Regions from separate parts of the Homo sapiens genome. Here region 1 is linked to region 2. Evidence: fine-mapped expression QTL. Tissue or cell type: monocytes. Region 2 holds a variant in brackets; the other region holds the start of a gene. All regions are shown on one strand. Distances are from middle to middle.

Region 1 (8,096 bases), 140 kb before region 2:
GCCTAGGGAGGTCAGACAATGGGCCCGAGGGAATGGACACCAGCTCCAGGCACCACAGCCCTGCCAGCAGGAAGCCAAGGGAGGGGGTAAGAATCCAGAGCCCCTTGCCGGTGTCCCCAAGCAGACTGATTCTAGAGGCTATGAGACTAGGGGAGTGTGACCCACACAGCAGCCTGAGCTGAGCAAATTCAGGTCTCTGAGCCTGCCCTGCAACCATATCCTGCGTTCTAATCGAAGACAAGTCTGAGAATTTCCCCAGACTTCCTGGTCAAACTTCAAGCTTCCTTTTCTTCATAGGGATGGAAACGGATATTTGGCCAGGCACTGCATCTTTGTAGCTCATTTAATCCTCGCAACAACCTGCTAAAGGAGGTATTCTAATTTTATAGGCTCAGAGGGATGAAGTGATTTGCTCAGTGCCACTCAGCTAGTGGGAGGCACAGTAGACTCACGCCCACCTGGTCTGTCTGATTTACCACTATCTGGGATTCACCAGTTACTGTGGCTCGAGGCTGCCGCTTAGCCCGTCTGGGTAACTTCCAGGGCACCTGGTATGCAGCTGGCACTCAAACAGTTCTACAAGCAAACTCAAAGGCCCTGGGGAAGTGGTTTTACCTCTCTGAGCTTCAGTTGCCCACACGAGACTGGGCCATTAATAACCTCCCCAGTCTTGGCAAGTACAACATGCCCCTTAGCACTTGACAGCCAGATGTGATGGCCCCACTAACTGAGCAGGTAACACACAGCCTGCCATAACCTATTTTAAAGTGGCACTTGGAACCATGGATGCATCAAGAGGTCACAAGTGACTCTGCAACCCTCCTCTGCTTCACTCTAGGTTCCAGGCTCTCTCCACGTCATGAAAGGAGATCACAGGTGTGAAATTATTTCATCAAAGAGCTTTGTTTAGACATAGAGATTATTGCGAGGATTTGAAGCCCCAGACAGAGGTCTGGGGTAGAGGGAATCCCAAGCCCCTCAGTCACCTTGTCTTTTGGGATCCCCTAACCCTTCCACCCCCAGGGATTGAGCTTCAGACTTCCACAGACCTCTCACCACGCTCCTCCACCTTCCAGGGGCTTTCCAAGGTGGTTTCCCCTTGACTCCAGGGAGTTGGGCATCTCTAGGGTTAACTAGGCCTAGCCAAGGCCACAGGGCCCAGACCAAGGCCATATCCCCTCCCCGTCCCCACACAGAATAAGAGCCCACAGAGTCCATGCCAAGGGCTCTTTCACAACACCCCTCTCCCTACATGCCTTGGGGGCAGCAGAAGCATCCCCTGCCTGGGAATAAAGACACCTGGGACTGTGCCCCAGCCCTGGGAGCCCCCAGCCTTGAGACCTTGAGCAGGTCCCTTCCTTCCTGGGCAGAGGTATCCTGCAGGTTCCCCTGCCCAGAAGAAAATGAGGTTGGACCTTCCATTTGGGCCAAAGGCAATGCGGTTGCAGGCATTCCTCGGGGCCCCAGCAACCAACCACACTAATTCTCACCACAGCCTCATACATGGTCGCCCAGATCTCACATCAGCGATAGGGAAAGCCCCAGCCACCTATCCAGAAGATCCTAACTGGGGAGGAGTGTGCATACCTTGAAGGATGCTCAGGAAGGTTTTCTCAAGTCTACTTGTGGCTCAAGGACTCACTGGCTTTAGGATCGGACAACTGGCACTCCCTTCGGGTGGGCCTCAGTGTCCCCATTAGTAATGTGAGGGAGGTGAGTCACGTGAGCCACATCTCCAGCCACCCCAGAGGGGCTACATCTCCAGCTCTGACAGACCCTTACTTGGGGATCTCTGCAGTGAATTCACCAACAGATAAGCACGTCTCAGGACCTCCAGAGTGTCTTAGAGACCCTGGAGTCTGACACACAAGGGCCAGGAGCTGCTGCTCTCACATCCTGGGCCCACAGGGAGAGAAGCTTTGGAACTGGGAAGCTTCCCACCTCTACCCTCAACTCTGAGTCACCTTTCCTCGCGGGTGACATGGCCAGGGAGCGGGAGGCAAGAAGAAGCCACTTCCTCAGCTTTAGCATCAGCGCTCAAGTGCTCTGCCTCTTCCCCCTCTATCCTCTCCCGCTTCCCCAGTCTCCTCCCCGCAGTGAAAGGAGGTCACTCAGCCCCGTTAAGCCTCAGTTTCTCCATCTGCAAGCGCCGATAATAATACACAACACCTATTTCAGGAGTAGCAGTGAGGCTTAGGCGGGGCGGGGCGGGGCAGGGCGCGAACCCGCACACAATGGGCGCTCAATAAGTACCCGTTTTCTTTCTTTCCCCTCCCCTTCCCGCGCCCCCTCCCAGCCAGTTCCAGCCTCTGCTTGTTTCCCCTGACACTCCCTCCGCTGGCCCCCGCGCTGCCGCGATGGGGTCGGGGACCGCTCCTGCCGCGCATCCGGGGCTCTCACCTGCAGCCTTGGCTCTCGCAGGCCGCCGGGACAGAAGGGGACCCCTGTGTTATCTTCGGGGCAGGCGCTGAACCCCTCACCTGAGGCGGGACGAAGGTGACAGCCTGGGCTCGCGGCACCAGCCCGGCGGTTCGGTCCGACTGTCCTGCCCGCCTAGGACCCCTCACCGAGCGCACGACCCGGCCAGGGCTTCCCGGGCGCTCGCGCTGTTCCAAGCTGTTCCAACTGAAGGTTGGGGTCTCGTGAAGCCAGAGGCTGGGGGGGTCCGGGGTCCCGTGCACCGGAGGCGAGGGCCTGGGGCCACACTGCGCTAGCCCTGGAGCTGGGGTTCCGACCCTCACTGACGGAAAGGCGCGGAGCGACCCTGCAACCACGGACCGGTACGGCGGCGTTAGGAGCGTCCCGTCCCGGCGCAGCGGGTCAGGGCCGGGGCTCCGCGCGTCCCGGCCGCACGCCCCGAACCGCGGGGCTGGGACGGGCAGGGCAGGGCAGGCGCCGGCGGGGAGGCGCGGCGGCCGGAGCCCCGCGGGGAAGTCTTTCCAGGTCCCGACTCGGCTCTCTCTGCAAAACGGGGCGAACCTCGGCGCGGCGGCCGACTCCCGAGCTCCCGGCCGCGGCTCCACTTCCTCCTCTTCCCCTGCTCCCTCGCCGCTCGCTCAGCGCCGCGCCGCTGCCACCTCCGCTGTCATCCCCGCCACCCACCCCCACCGGAGCCGCAGCCCGAGCTCAGCCGAAACAGCGCCGCCCAGCGCCCCAGCGCCAGCCTGCGCGGCCCCGCCCGGACGGGGCGGAGTCAGCAGAGACCCCGCCCCCGGCCGGCTGCGGGCAGGGGCGGGGTGCGCGCCCTCTCCCCTTCCCGGGCCTCGCGCGTGGGGCCGCAGGAGCCAATCCGAGGGTGGGAGCGGAGCGGCGCCCTGCGGAAAGCGGATTCTACCTCGGAGAGGGCGGGGCGGACAATGGAGAGGTGCGGCTGCAAGAGGACAATGGCGGGGCTGGGGGTTCGGAACGGGCCGAATCGGGGAGGGGGTTGGCCTCGGGACCCGGAAGGAGGGAGAGGCGAGAGGGCTGGCTTGCCTGGGACGGGGGCATGGGGACTGCTGTGCGGGGATTGCGGGGGTCACGGGGAAGGAGCAGGGGCCAGTGTAGGAAAAGAAGCCGGGGCGAGGCAAGGTGGAGGATATCCGGGGTCAGGGGTCCCAGGGACGCTGGAGCGAGCCCTCCTGAGTGGTGGGATGCCACCGACACCTTGCTTCTCCCTAGCTTCTAGTGCTCGGCGCTCAGAGGTGAGAGTTGGGCTGGGAAGTGTTCAGATTTCAGGAAACGGTGAAAAATAAGTTTTTGGAAATGAGCGAATTTGTCTTCCACAAGCCTCCCTTCCCTGCGCCCATCCCCGAGGAGGAGCGTCGTGGTCAATTTTAAAAATACGAACTCAAGAGCAGAGTTGTGTGAGGACACACACTTCGAATCGTGATGCATCTGCAGTCCGCTCCCGCCCCTTCCCACCCCGCGCGTTGGGTGCAGGAGCCGTCTTTATTTTCTATTTCATTTTATTTTGAGACAGGGTCCCGCTCTGTGGCCCAGGCTGGAGTGCAGTGGCACTATCACGGCTCACTGCAGCCTCGAACTTCCAGGCTAAAGAGATCCTCCCACCTGTGCCTCCGGAGTAGCTGTGACTACAGGCGTGCACCACCACATCTGGCTAATTTTTAAATTTTTTGTAGAGACAGGGTCTCCCTATGTTTTCCAGGCTGGTCTCGATCTCCTGGGTTCCGGCGATCCTCCTGCCTCGACCTCCCAAAGTGCTGAGATTATAGGTGTGAGCCCTGTGCTTGGCCAAGGAGCCGTCTTCAGTGTGTGCACAGGACCAGGCGCAGAGAAGGTGTTGGAGGGAACTGATGTATGAATGAAAGTTGAATGTGTGCCGCGGGGGAGTGGGGTAGGGACCATGTGAAAGCCGCTAACTGGCCTGGGGAGCTAAGGGATGTTGGTGGCACAGTACAGTCTCTTTGTAAACCTCACACCAACCTTATGTTGTGATAGGTACCCCATTTCACAGATGAGGACTCAGCACAGAGAGGCTAAGTGACGTTCCCGAGACCACACAGCTGGCACAGAGTTCTATCCACCCATCATTATCAAATTCTAGGGTAAAGCTGTGTGGCTTTAACAGGTTACTCTCCCTCTCTGAGCCTCTGTTTCCTCATCTATAAAAGAAGAATAAAGGTGCTACTTGGCAGGGAACCAGGTGAGGGACTGGGCAGGCAGCAGGCTTCAGAGGGTGAAGCATGGGCATTCCCTGCAAAAGAAATGGCATCAGACTATGGCTGAGAGACTGGTTGGAAGAACAAAGAAGAGGGTGAGCTGGAGGCTGAAGTTCAGGCTGCGGACTTGAGGGTGCCCTGTCTTCTTCAGGCCCAGGGGTTGGGAGTAGGCAAGTTGGGCCCAGGAAGTTGGGACTGGTCTCTGGAGCCTGAGGGCTGGGAGAAGGCAGTTTTGCCTTTACTTGTTGAACTTGACGCTAAGAAACCTTGTGGCCCTTCCCTCTGTCCAGAGCCCTCTCTGGCTCCCGGTTGCCAGCATGACCAAGCCCTACATCCCTAGCCTGGCGTTCCAGCCCCTTTGTTATTGCTCTCTGCCTGCTGACTCCACCAGCCTCATCTCCCCATTGCTTACTTCCCTCTCTACTTGCGCCAACTTCTCTCAGCTCCATCAGCAAGCAGGATGCATTCTGTCTCCATGCAGTTGTCTCCTCCATGTGTTGCTTTGCTGTTCCCCTTCTCTCTGGAGTTAATTCTCATTTCTCTGCTGGGCTGAAGGGCAGAACCTCTAGGCCAAATGCTCATCTGTTCTCTTCACTGCTGTATCCCCAGAGCCTAGCACGGAGCCTGGCACATAGTAGGTGCCAAGTAAACAATTGTTGAATAAATGACCCATCTCTCATGAGATTTATCAAGATTTATCTCCACCAAGATTTATCACCACCTCCGAGAAGCCTTCCTGAACTCCCCCAGGCTGCCTGCCTTTGGTCTGGGCTCCCTCAGCTTGAAGGTTCTGTAATGATTGATTTCCATGTCTGGTTTCCCTCCCACCCGCCACCATCCAGCCTGGTACATGGCCTGCCCTTGTGAGATCTCGGCACTGGGAGATGAATGAGGCTCTCAGAGAGTTCTCTGGCTGCCCCTGCTGCGAGAGCCTCCTTAGCTGGGTCAGATGAGCAGGATGTCAGAATAAAAGGAGATTTTCAGAACAGACCCTCCATGACCCCTGAGGCGCTGGGGGTGTGTGAGGGGGAGGCATGCCCAAGGTCGTCAGGAGGTGACTAGCAAACAGGTCTCAAGACACCCACATTTGCCCTCTGGCCACTCTTCCAAAGGGGAGGGAGTCTTGTGAGCTGGGGAATCTGGCCTTTTGGTGGCCAAGGAGTTCCATGAAGCATGACAGAGGTGGTCATGGTGGCTGGTCTGGGCGGTGGTCGAGGGTGAGGCTACACGGAAACATTAGCCTTTTCTGCCTGATGCCCTACTTCTCCCAAGAACCTTCTACCTTCCTTACATTCTTCTCACCGGAGGCAGCAGCTTCAGCTTCGGGCCCCAGGGCTGTTAAACGCAGCTCCTCCCATTCTTATGGCAGATAGACATTCACTTTCACGTCTACATTTATATTAGTATTTTGCAGTTTTTCTTAAACAGGGCCACTGAATTGTATGAGGCTCCACACCCCTGGAGATCTACTTCCAACAAATCCTTCCACTGCGTCCATATATGCAGGTCCTGTGTGAGGCGTTGGCAGGGACGCTCTGCCCTCCTGCAGCTCCCTGTCTGGTGGGGTGATTGGGCTCCACTGAGCTCATTGAGCCCTCAAAATGCTTCATGCCTTCCTACCCCTCTGCCTCCGTCCCTGCCAGCCTGGAGTCCTTTCCCTGTCCCTCCTGCCTGCATGTGTCCCGCTTGCCTAGTGGATTTTCTCCATCCTTCAAGGCCCTTCTCACAAGCTGATGCCTCTGAGAACCCTGCCCACTTCTCCCAGTGACAAGCACAGCCTCTTCCTTTGGAGCCTGTGGCACCGAAGGCCCTTTGCCTCTTCTGATGCCTTTGGATCTGGGCTGCTGTTGATGGGTCAATTTTCCCACCAGATTATGAGCTTTTGGAGGGCAAGGGGTGGAGTCTGATTTCTCGCTGCCCGAGTCCCTCATTCACCAATGTTTCCTGAGTTGGACCAAGTCCTATACCAAACATTGGGTATCCAGGGATGGGACAATCAGATGAGAACCTGCCCTCATCATCGAGGAGCCCCCAGTCCCAGAGCTGTCTGCATGGAAATGTGTACCAAGTGCTTTCTGAACAGAGGAGGCTGCCTGATTCAGCTGGAGGAGGGCAAGCTGGGTCAAGGGCAGCTTCACAGGGAGGGTGACACTTGGGTATTTAAGAAGCAGAACTTATCAAGATAAGGAGGGAAGCGTCTTCTGGGCAGACGGAACATTGAGCGCAAAGGCATGAAAGTGGGAATGGGCAGGTGGAGGGTGAGAAGTTAGTGTATTTAGGGCAACAGAAATGACGGAGGGAGAAGTGGGTTGCACAACAGAGCAGTTAGAGCACAGACTCTGGAGCCACATGGCCTAGGTTCGAATCCTGACACTACCAAGTGCTAGCTCTGTTGTTACTCAGTGCCTCAGTTTCCTTATCTGTAGAGTGGGGATAATCCCAGTACTTACTTTGTAGGATATTTATAAGGATTAAGTGAGTTAATTTTTGTAAGGCACCTAGGGTAGTGTTGATGACACACGTAAGTTCCTAGTGAGTGTTAGGTAAATGAGGGGGAGCCGGAGAGGCCATGATAGGTGGGGTTCATGTTTGGAATTTATCTGGAGGACATTGGAGCATTAGCAAGGAGGGAGTGTGAAGGGGAGTGGGAAGCTTGGCTTGGACCCAGCCTGCTCTGCCCACTCACGCACATCCAGAGGGCATCCCTGGGACCCCCACCTGCCTGCCCCTCCTGCTCTCTGGTCTTCCACTGCCCTCAGTGGCCCTGTGGCCTCAACTAACCTCAGCTGATGTATAACAGGGCTGTAGGAGCTGGGGCCACACCTACCCCAGTACACCTGGGGGAAACTTTATGTTCCAGTTTATTGCCAAAGGAGGTCAAGTAGGGGTCCCGAGGGGATCCGGGACACATGTGCAGGGTGAGCATCTGAGCTGTAGCCTGGCTTAACGCATGGTGGATTTGGTAAGAGTGTGTATGTGGAATGGGGAGTGGAGAGGGGCTGGAGGCACTTGCCTGGCCTGGAGAGCTGGTTGGATGTAGGGCACTGTGGGCTGTGATGCTGTGGGCTTGGGAGCCAGGTGCACATCCTGGCCCAGTCACCTTCCCTCTCTGTGCCTGAGATTCCTGTGGGTAAAAGGGAGATGAAAATAGTAGCTCCTTCAGGCCGGTTAGCTCAGTTGGGAAAAAAAAGAAAAAGAAAATAGTGGCTACTTCAAAGGTGGTAAGGATGAAAAGATCAAATGTTCAGTCAGTGAGGCCTGAGGTACATGGTGTATATCTGGGAGACCAAAATCAATTCTGTAGTACCAAGGCCGAAAGGTCAAGAGAGACTGTGGCTGGAGAGCCAGGCAGAGGGACGTGCCACACAAGGTCTTAGTCAAGAGTTGGCCTCTGTGCTGAGGGTGGAGGGGAGCCATGGGAGGGTTTCACAGGGA
Region 2 (8,102 bases):
CAAACTATGTTGTCCCTCTGCTTAGATTTTTTCAGTGACTCATTATTGTCTATAGAAGCAAATCCAAACTTCTTAGCCAGGAATACAAGGCTGTTGATAAGCTGACCTATGCCTACCTCTCAGAGCACAAAAAGAAAGCGAATAATAAAAATAAGAGTAAAATTTACTGAAAAAAGAGATGCTCAACAAAATAAAAAATTTATTCTTTGGAAAGACTAAAAAACAAAACAAATCTGAACAAGACTAATCCTGAAAAAAAAAAGCGAGAAGGTACAAATAAATATTAGGTATGAAAAAGGAGACATAACTACAGGTAAGTAGAGATTATTTTTAAATCCACAAGATAATGCTATGATCAATTTTATGTCAATAAATTATAAAATTAGAAGAAATGTACATTTTTCCAGAAAAAAATAAATTATCAACACTGGCTCAAGAAGAAATATAACACCTGAATAAGTGAATCAGTATTAAAGACATCAAATTGACAGTTTAAAAAAAATCCATGAAAAAGACAACAGGTCCAGCAAGTTTTACAGGAGAATTTTATCAGATATTTGAGGAGGAGCCCTTCTTATATAAACTTTTTCAAATAACTAAAAAGGAGGGGAATCTACCCATTTAATTTTATAGGTATAACCTTGATTCCAACAGTACATAAGACTAATATAAAAAAGGAAAAATTATAGGCCAATCTTACTTATGAATATATACGCAAGCATTTCAGATAAAAAATAGCAAACCAAATTCAGCATAATAAAATATATTTTTATCTAAACAAGATTTATCCCAGAAATGCAAAGATGGTTCAATATGAGAAAAAAAATCTATTAACAGATTAAAAAAGAAAAATCACAGATCATCTCAGCTGATGCTGAGCCTTCAATAAGAGAAAAAGCATTCAATAAGATTCAACAGCCAAACTAATTTTTAGAAACCCCTAGCAAACTAAGATAAATAGAAATTTCTTAACCTTATCTTATAAAAACATAAAGCAAACCTCATACTTAATGATAAAACTTTAGAAACTTTCCCACATCCCAAGGCAAGGATGTTTGTTATCACCTACTATTTGAAACCATACCAGATGTCCTAACCAACAGAGCAACACACACAAAAAAACAAGATATATAAATCTTGGAAAGGAAGATAATAAATTGTTATTTGCTAAAAACATACATTATCTCCACAGACAATCCAGGAAAGTCTACAAACAAAACTAATTAGAGAGTGTGATAAGTTTCCTGAATACAAGATTAACATACAAAACTTAATGCATATGGGCAATAATAAATTAGAAAAGGTAATGAACTCTTCATGATAGGAACAATAATTAAAAGCTAGCTCAGAATAAAATAAAATAAGATAATATAGTATTAGCTCAGACTGATGGAATAGAACAGAGAACCCAGATATAATATCTAAAGATATGTGACCCTTATGTGATAGAGGAGATATCATAAGTTAGTGGGGAAAAGCAAAGCTTTAGAAAACAGTGTAAGGATAAATGACTTTCCATATACGGAAAAATTCAATACTTACCTCACTCCATTCATAAAGATAAAATCTAGTTAGATTATTAACAATTTAAATACAGAAATAAAACTTTAAAACTGTATATATGTGTATATATATGAGTATATATGTGTATGTGATTTTGTGGAGAAAATTACAAAATATAAGTGAAGAACATAAAAGACTTAAATAAATGGCAACCTTTGCCATGTTTGCATGTGGGAAAACTCAATAGCTTAAAGATGGCAAACCTCACCAAGTAATTTTTTCCCAAGTAAAGCTTGCATTCATCTGCATTAAAATTATCTAGAGTGCTTGCTAAAAATTAGATACTTAGGCTCCATTTTAAGCCCATTGAATTAGAATGTATGAGGATGTGGCCCAGGAATCTGCATTTCAGAAAGCTCTCCAGGTGATTCTTTTGTGTACTAAATTTTGAGAATGATGCCTTATAAAAGTAGATCATAACGTGAGTTGCACATTAGAATCACTTGAAGTAGTTTTTAAAAACTTGGTTGCCCAGGCTACACCCCAGACCAATGAAATCAGATTTTCTAGGCAAGGCACCTATGCATCAGTCTTTTGAAAGTTCTCCACTGATTCCAATGTGTAGCCAAGGTTGAGGACTGCTGCCCTAGGTGAAGGTCCATGTAGAGTCAGGTCTGTAAAGTTTGCTGCCCTTCTCCGTTTGAACATTTACTTCTAGTGCTAACCTGGTAGGATTTGTACTTTTTTTTTTTTTTTTTGAGATGGACTCTCACTCTGTCACCCAGGCTGGAGGACAGTGGCATGATCTTGGCTCACTGCAACCTCCGCCTCCCAGGTTCAAGAAATTCTCCTGCCTCAGCCTCCTGAGTAGCTGGGATTACAGGCGCACCCCACCACGCCCGGCTAATTTTTTGTATTTTTAGTACAATTTTTTGTATTTTTAGAAACGGGGTTTCACCATGTTGGTCAGGCTTGTCTCAAACTCCTGACCTCGTGATCTGCCCGCCTCAGCCTCCTGATGTGCTGGGATTACAGGCGTGAGCCACCGCGCTTGACCAGGATTTGGACTTTAACTTGATTGAGGAAGACACAATTTTCTTACATTAAAATTATGACTCATTTATTTGGTATTCCCAGCTCCTTGTCTGGTACATGGCAGGGGCTTGGTGATCATTTTCTGAAAAAAATTCAACTAAATGAAATTGACTCTATCAATATGTAGAAAAATAAAATTTTCAACAAGCCCTAAAAAGTCCATTAGATTCAACAAATCTATATGGCACCTAGGCTGTGAGAGGTACAGAGTGAACAAAATACAGCCTTCTCTTCAGGTGTTCATGACGTGGTGGGGGAGACAGACATGGACAAGAGTATTTTACAATCAAGCAGACAATGATAAGGGTTCAGAAAGTAAAAAGGGAATAGAAGAACAATTGATTCAGAATGGCTGGCTCTAGGAAGGCATCGCTGTAGACTCAGTATCCAAGATTGGCCTCGAGGCATTGCTGGGATTGACCCAAAAGGAAATTAGGGAAATGGGCAGTTAGGGAATGGGGCAGTTCTGCACAGCATAAACTAAGTCAGATGGGTCTTCCTGTAACCTTCATACAAGGCTGGAGGGCAGACATTAAAGGCTCCTTTTCTTTCTAACTTCCTTGTTACTGCTCTTATTTTTCAAGTATTTCACCCTGGTTTATTAATTCTACCTCCTGGTGCCTCAGCTGGTTTCTTCTAGGAAAAGTTTCTCATTAGCATTTCTATAGGGAGCAGCTGCTACCCTATCTACCCCTATTATCTGATGGCCAGGGCAATGGGGTTGACTGGGAGAGGAATTTTAATCCCCTCCTTATGACTCATCTATTTTCTAATTGAGAACGTCAGGTCTAAAGTCACAAATGGCTTCCCAGTGAAACCCATCCTTAACATTAAAAATGGTAATAAAGACATGCTTCTCAGTTTTACAATATCATCTATGTAAAATGAATGTATTAAAAATTAATCAAACTCATGTTTGTGAATAATCCCAAAGCTATCCTGGA[T/C]ACTACTTGAATGCAAAAATCTCAGGCTGATATGAATGGATTGGGAATTAGATGAGCTATTGAATAGGGAAGGTTTCTCAAAACCATAATGTCAAAGGGTATCTAATGTTATTTATGACTGTAAATTGTAAAGTAAAACAATGAGCATGTATATGATTCTGAATTTTGAATGTATATTTTACATGATGGACTGTGTGTCCCTTTCTGTTTAAGCAGACTGTTCACATTGATGTCATGTGGCAGGTGTCATTTGTAAAGTCCATGAGACGAACCAGTCACCATGGTGTGAATACACCATAATTTATGTAGAATGGCAGAAGAAAAGGGTTTGTAAATCAAATTATCATTGAAGTGGAGCACAGCTTGGCTTCTAAGCCTTCTAAGGCAACATAAGGCCCATCTTATGTCAGTGGACATGGTACTTACTTAAATTCAGAAGATATCCTAGAAACATAGCAAGGAAAAGAATGTGAGACAATAGGGAAGGAAAATCAATGTTCTAGATAAGCTTATAATTGCCAACCATTTTTTCTTTACAGTGTATTTAATGTATTGAATAGCTTATTTCTTTATATCTACTTTCAATCAAAGTGAATTTCTCAATTATTTGTTAATTTTTATTCTGGAACAAAAAAAAAACCCGTTAAATTTCACATCAAATTTGTCATGCACTTAAATTGTTCATTGAAGAAATTGATGTTTCTTAGCAATAATCATTCCCTTAATATTTCAAAACCCTTTTGATTATATAGCAAAATAGTACTCCTGGCCCGAAAGCCATAGGTATAATTAAATTTTACAAAAGACCTAAATTTAAAAATTTTTTTGAGGTGTTCAAAGATTTTTTTGACAGGTTAATAGAATTGATAGGTGCTAAAAATAATCATTCTCACCAGCTCCGAGGGCATAGCCTTCCCCCACCAAATCCAGTCATTTCCAGTATGTGTGTAATGTGAAGCATGGCATGTGAAGCACGACATGCTTACTGCACAGCTAAGCTGTTGTTTTGAGGAAAAAGGCTATATGGAACAAGGTACAACCCCAAATCTGGAGTGCGTTATATTCAAAGGATGTGGTCATTCCTTGACTGACAGGCCACTCATCCATAAACAAAGCAAGTCCTGCCAACTTGAAATCATAAACTGAGTAGGATCACCCAAGGAGGCTTAAGAATCTGGAATCTCTCTTGATTGGCATTGACTGCATGGTGGTGAGAAGAGACAGCTCCTGCTAGTGGGTAGTAAGGTTCCACCTGCCACAGGGTGCTAGAATGAGAGTGGGAAGATGAAGAGGCCAAGCCAGTAATCTATGATGTTGGGCCAGACGTGGGCTTCTCAGGGTAGGAAGATCAAGAAATGAAGTAGGGTCTTGAAGCAAGCAAGCCATAGCAGAACTAGAAAACTACATCCTGCCTTTGTTTTTTATGTCTCCTGCTTATTTGTTTCCCCTCTTTTCTTTTGCTCCCCGCTTGGTAGCAGCATAAAAACATAGTGAACATTCTACCATCTCATGGCTATTCAAGGAAAAGGATTTATGTCCTTGTTTGACCAAGAGCTCAAAGGAAGTGCTGTACTCCTGGGTTCCCAGTGTGGTTGTTGTGATAGCAATAAACCAAGAGAGAGATGCCAAGTGGGAGGTGGAATTCAGGAAGATGAGAAATGCAGGGGTAGGAGTTGGGGGACAGATTTTCTCTTAACATGAAGGATGTCTGGATATGCTATTCTTTCCTCAGCCTATGAGAGAGTATTGGTAATGTTCACTGGAGAAGGATATTAGTCTAACCTATATACAGAGTCTTGGCAAAGGACTAACTCTCTAGTCCTCCCCGCCCCCCACACCCTCTTGCAGGAAGGAGGCAGCAGAAAGCTGTGGCATTGATAAAGGACCCCATAAGCTGCATTTTGAACACCTCTAGCTCAATTACTTTCATACAGATCTTCCCCGAGAGACCCCAAATGCAATGTTGCATGTCCAGAGTCAACTGTGTTCTGTTAGCTAATTGATGTTGGTTGAAACATAAGGGGAGAATTGAAAGCTAAGCCTTCAGAAATATATACCGGATGGATGAAGGGCAAGAAAGCAGACTGGAATGGCTGAAGCTGCAGCAGAGGGAAAATTCTAGAAGGAAAGAGAGAGAGAGATTTTCATGCTTGAAAGCATTCATTTGCAAGGAATTGAGTGTGCTGGAGAAAGGGGTTTTTGGTGGCAAGAGAATGAGAGACATCTGGAGAACATGTAGGGAAAGGAGAGAGAAAGAAGATGCCTCAATAGCAGAGAAGGCTGGAGGCACCTAGGAAGTAGGATCATAAGGTATCATGTGGAAGGTAGGAATGGAACCAAGATGTACTAATTACCACTATGTGCTAGGCACGAGCTGTTCTCCTGATTATCTCATTTAATCCTCACAATGTCCGGCACACTGCCTGGCATATAGTAGGCACTCAAAAATATGTTGAATATTTAATATTAACTAAATAAAAATAAAATGTTTAATATTAAATCAATAAAAGTGTGAACAATCCTAAGAGATGTCTATTACCAATTACATCTTACAGATAAGAACATGAGGCCCAGAAAGGTTAGGAAACTTGCCCAATATGTCACAGCTAGGGAGAGGTGGAAGGACAATGACTTCAAAGTTCCAGCGGTGGAAGGTGGGGGGTAATTTGTAAAGATCCTGTGGGTAATCTAGAAAAAGGTATGGTGCTTGGGTGTTGCCCAGAGACTGAGAAAGGGAGGAAAGAATGAAGGGCCAAGGGAACTGGGCTAGGGAGGAGGGCGAGAGGCCACTTGGAAAGAATTCTTCTTCTGGAAGAATGGGGACCCTGCAAAGGGCAACATCCAGGCTAACGCAGCAGGTGAGTTGGATGGGGGCACGACGGAAGCACAGCCTCTGCTGACATTGCAAAGGGTCTCTGTGGGAAGGCAGGGATCTGAGGTGGGAGGGATGGAGAAAAGGGCTACAGCGGTAAAGTGAAAGAGCCAGGCAGGCTGAGATGGAATATACTAACAGCTTGCGCATGGGACAGGGCAGAAGAGAAGGCTTCGACAGGAGGTGGCCTGGGAGGCGGCTGGGGAGAGGGTGTGGCCTGGGACTGGAGGGAGGCTGCACGCTAGGCCTGCGCTGGGGATCCTGGGCCCCGGGCAGCCCGCGGGGAGGGTCTGCGTGGTGACTCCCCCGCGCTAGCAGCGGCCGCGTCTCACCTGTAGGAGCTGCTCACTGCACTCGCCACCTCCTCGCGGATTTGCCGGTTGAGGGCGTCCGCCGCGGCGCGCCCCCTGCCAGCCTCGGGGCCGGTGGCCTGGACCTGGGCCTGGGCCGCGGGCAGCGGCGTCTGCTCGTGCCCCAGGCCCTCGGCGCGGCGCACAATCCAGGCAGGCCCGGCCTTCCTGCGCGTGTCGCGCTCGTCCGCCCCGGACGCCTTTCCGGCCGCCAGGCCACCCGCTCCGCCGGGGGCCGCCTCCTGCTCCCGGGCCTCAGCGGCGGCCTGCACTGGCCAGCGCTCCTGGCTCTGCGGCCGGCGCTTGGGCGCCCCGAGAATGGGCGCCGACGCCTGGGAGGCCGCAGAGATCTGCACGGGCTTGGGGATCCACGGGTGGTCCCCGCGGCGCGGCAGCGGCCAGGCGCGGAAGTCCTTCTGGTACTGGGTCTCGCGCTCGAAGGGAGCGTCGGAGGGCTGGTATTCGCTGCGCGGCCGGCAGCTGGGCTCGGGCCGCTGCACCTTCCAGGCTCGGTAATCCTGCCGCATCACCGAGTCCGCGGGGCCGGAGGTGGAGCCGGAGCCCAGGCCCGGGCCCGGCCCGCTCCGGCCGGGGCCCGCCGCCGGCTCGCGCTCGCCGGTAGGCCCAGGCGCTGGCCCCGTTGCCCGGGCAACTGCATCCAACTCGCCCTGGGCTGGCTGCGTCTCTATGGCAACCGCGCGCGCCGAGGGGGGCGCGAGCGCCGGCTGCGCCTGCTGCTGCGGCGGCGGTGGCTGCGGCGGGGCGCCCGGGTGCTCGGTGGCCTCCGAGTACTTGGTGAAAACCAGCGGCACAGCGATGTCCGCTTTGTCCAACTGGTTCCAGAAGCGGGCGATGCAGCAGGCCCTCGTGATGCACGGCCACGCCATGATGCTAGCTGAAAAGCCGGCCTCCTCTTTCTTCTTGTGGTTCTAAAGCAAGTCTCTATAATCTTCCTTCAGCCTCCGATCCTGACCGGCCAATGTGGTTCCCACCGTTTTCTACCCCCGATCAGCCGGAGCTAGTTCGCCCTCCTCCCTCAGCGAGCACCCGGGGAGAGCTGTCCTAGGAGAGTCTGTAGAGTCCCTCGATTACCGGTCGCAAACGCCTTTGGGAGCGCAGTCTGCTGCGAGCGCCGAAGGGTGAGACGCACGGCGTTCCCGAGTCCCCGGCGAGGGTGTCTGGGACGCGCCCCTCCCTGCGGCTGCGGCGGCGCACAGACCTCGGTCGAGCGAGGCGACGTGAGGAGAGGTGGCTACAGGCTTAAGCCATGGCGCAGAGGAGGGGCCGGGCGGTGTGGCCGCAGGGTCCGCGGACCGGGCTCGAGTCTCCTTCCTGCCG

The links. PIP is the estimated chance that this variant, and not a neighbour inherited with it, causes the effect.
Region 1: it holds the start of GDPD5, and the variant in region 2 is fine-mapped to the expression of GDPD5 in monocytes (BLUEPRINT, PIP 0.90).

What each region holds. Positions count from the first base shown.
Region 1 is chr11:75,522,810-75,530,905 of GRCh38, forward strand. GDPD5 (glycerophosphodiester phosphodiesterase domain containing 5) reads right to left here and starts at 3,132. Exons shown (of 17, transcript NM_030792.8): 1 at 2,401-3,132. RefSeq lists enhancers at 506-555, 2,483-2,983 and silencers at 2,830-3,349, 3,400-3,459.
Region 2 is chr11:75,660,719-75,668,820 of GRCh38, forward strand. MAP6 (microtubule associated protein 6) reads right to left here. Exons shown (of 4, transcript NM_033063.2): 1 at 6,747-8,102. The coding sequence starts at 7,651. Among named protein-coding and RNA genes, the nearest start is that of MAP6, 4.3 kb to the right of the region's middle. The variant T/C (reference allele first, on the strand shown) is at 3,543.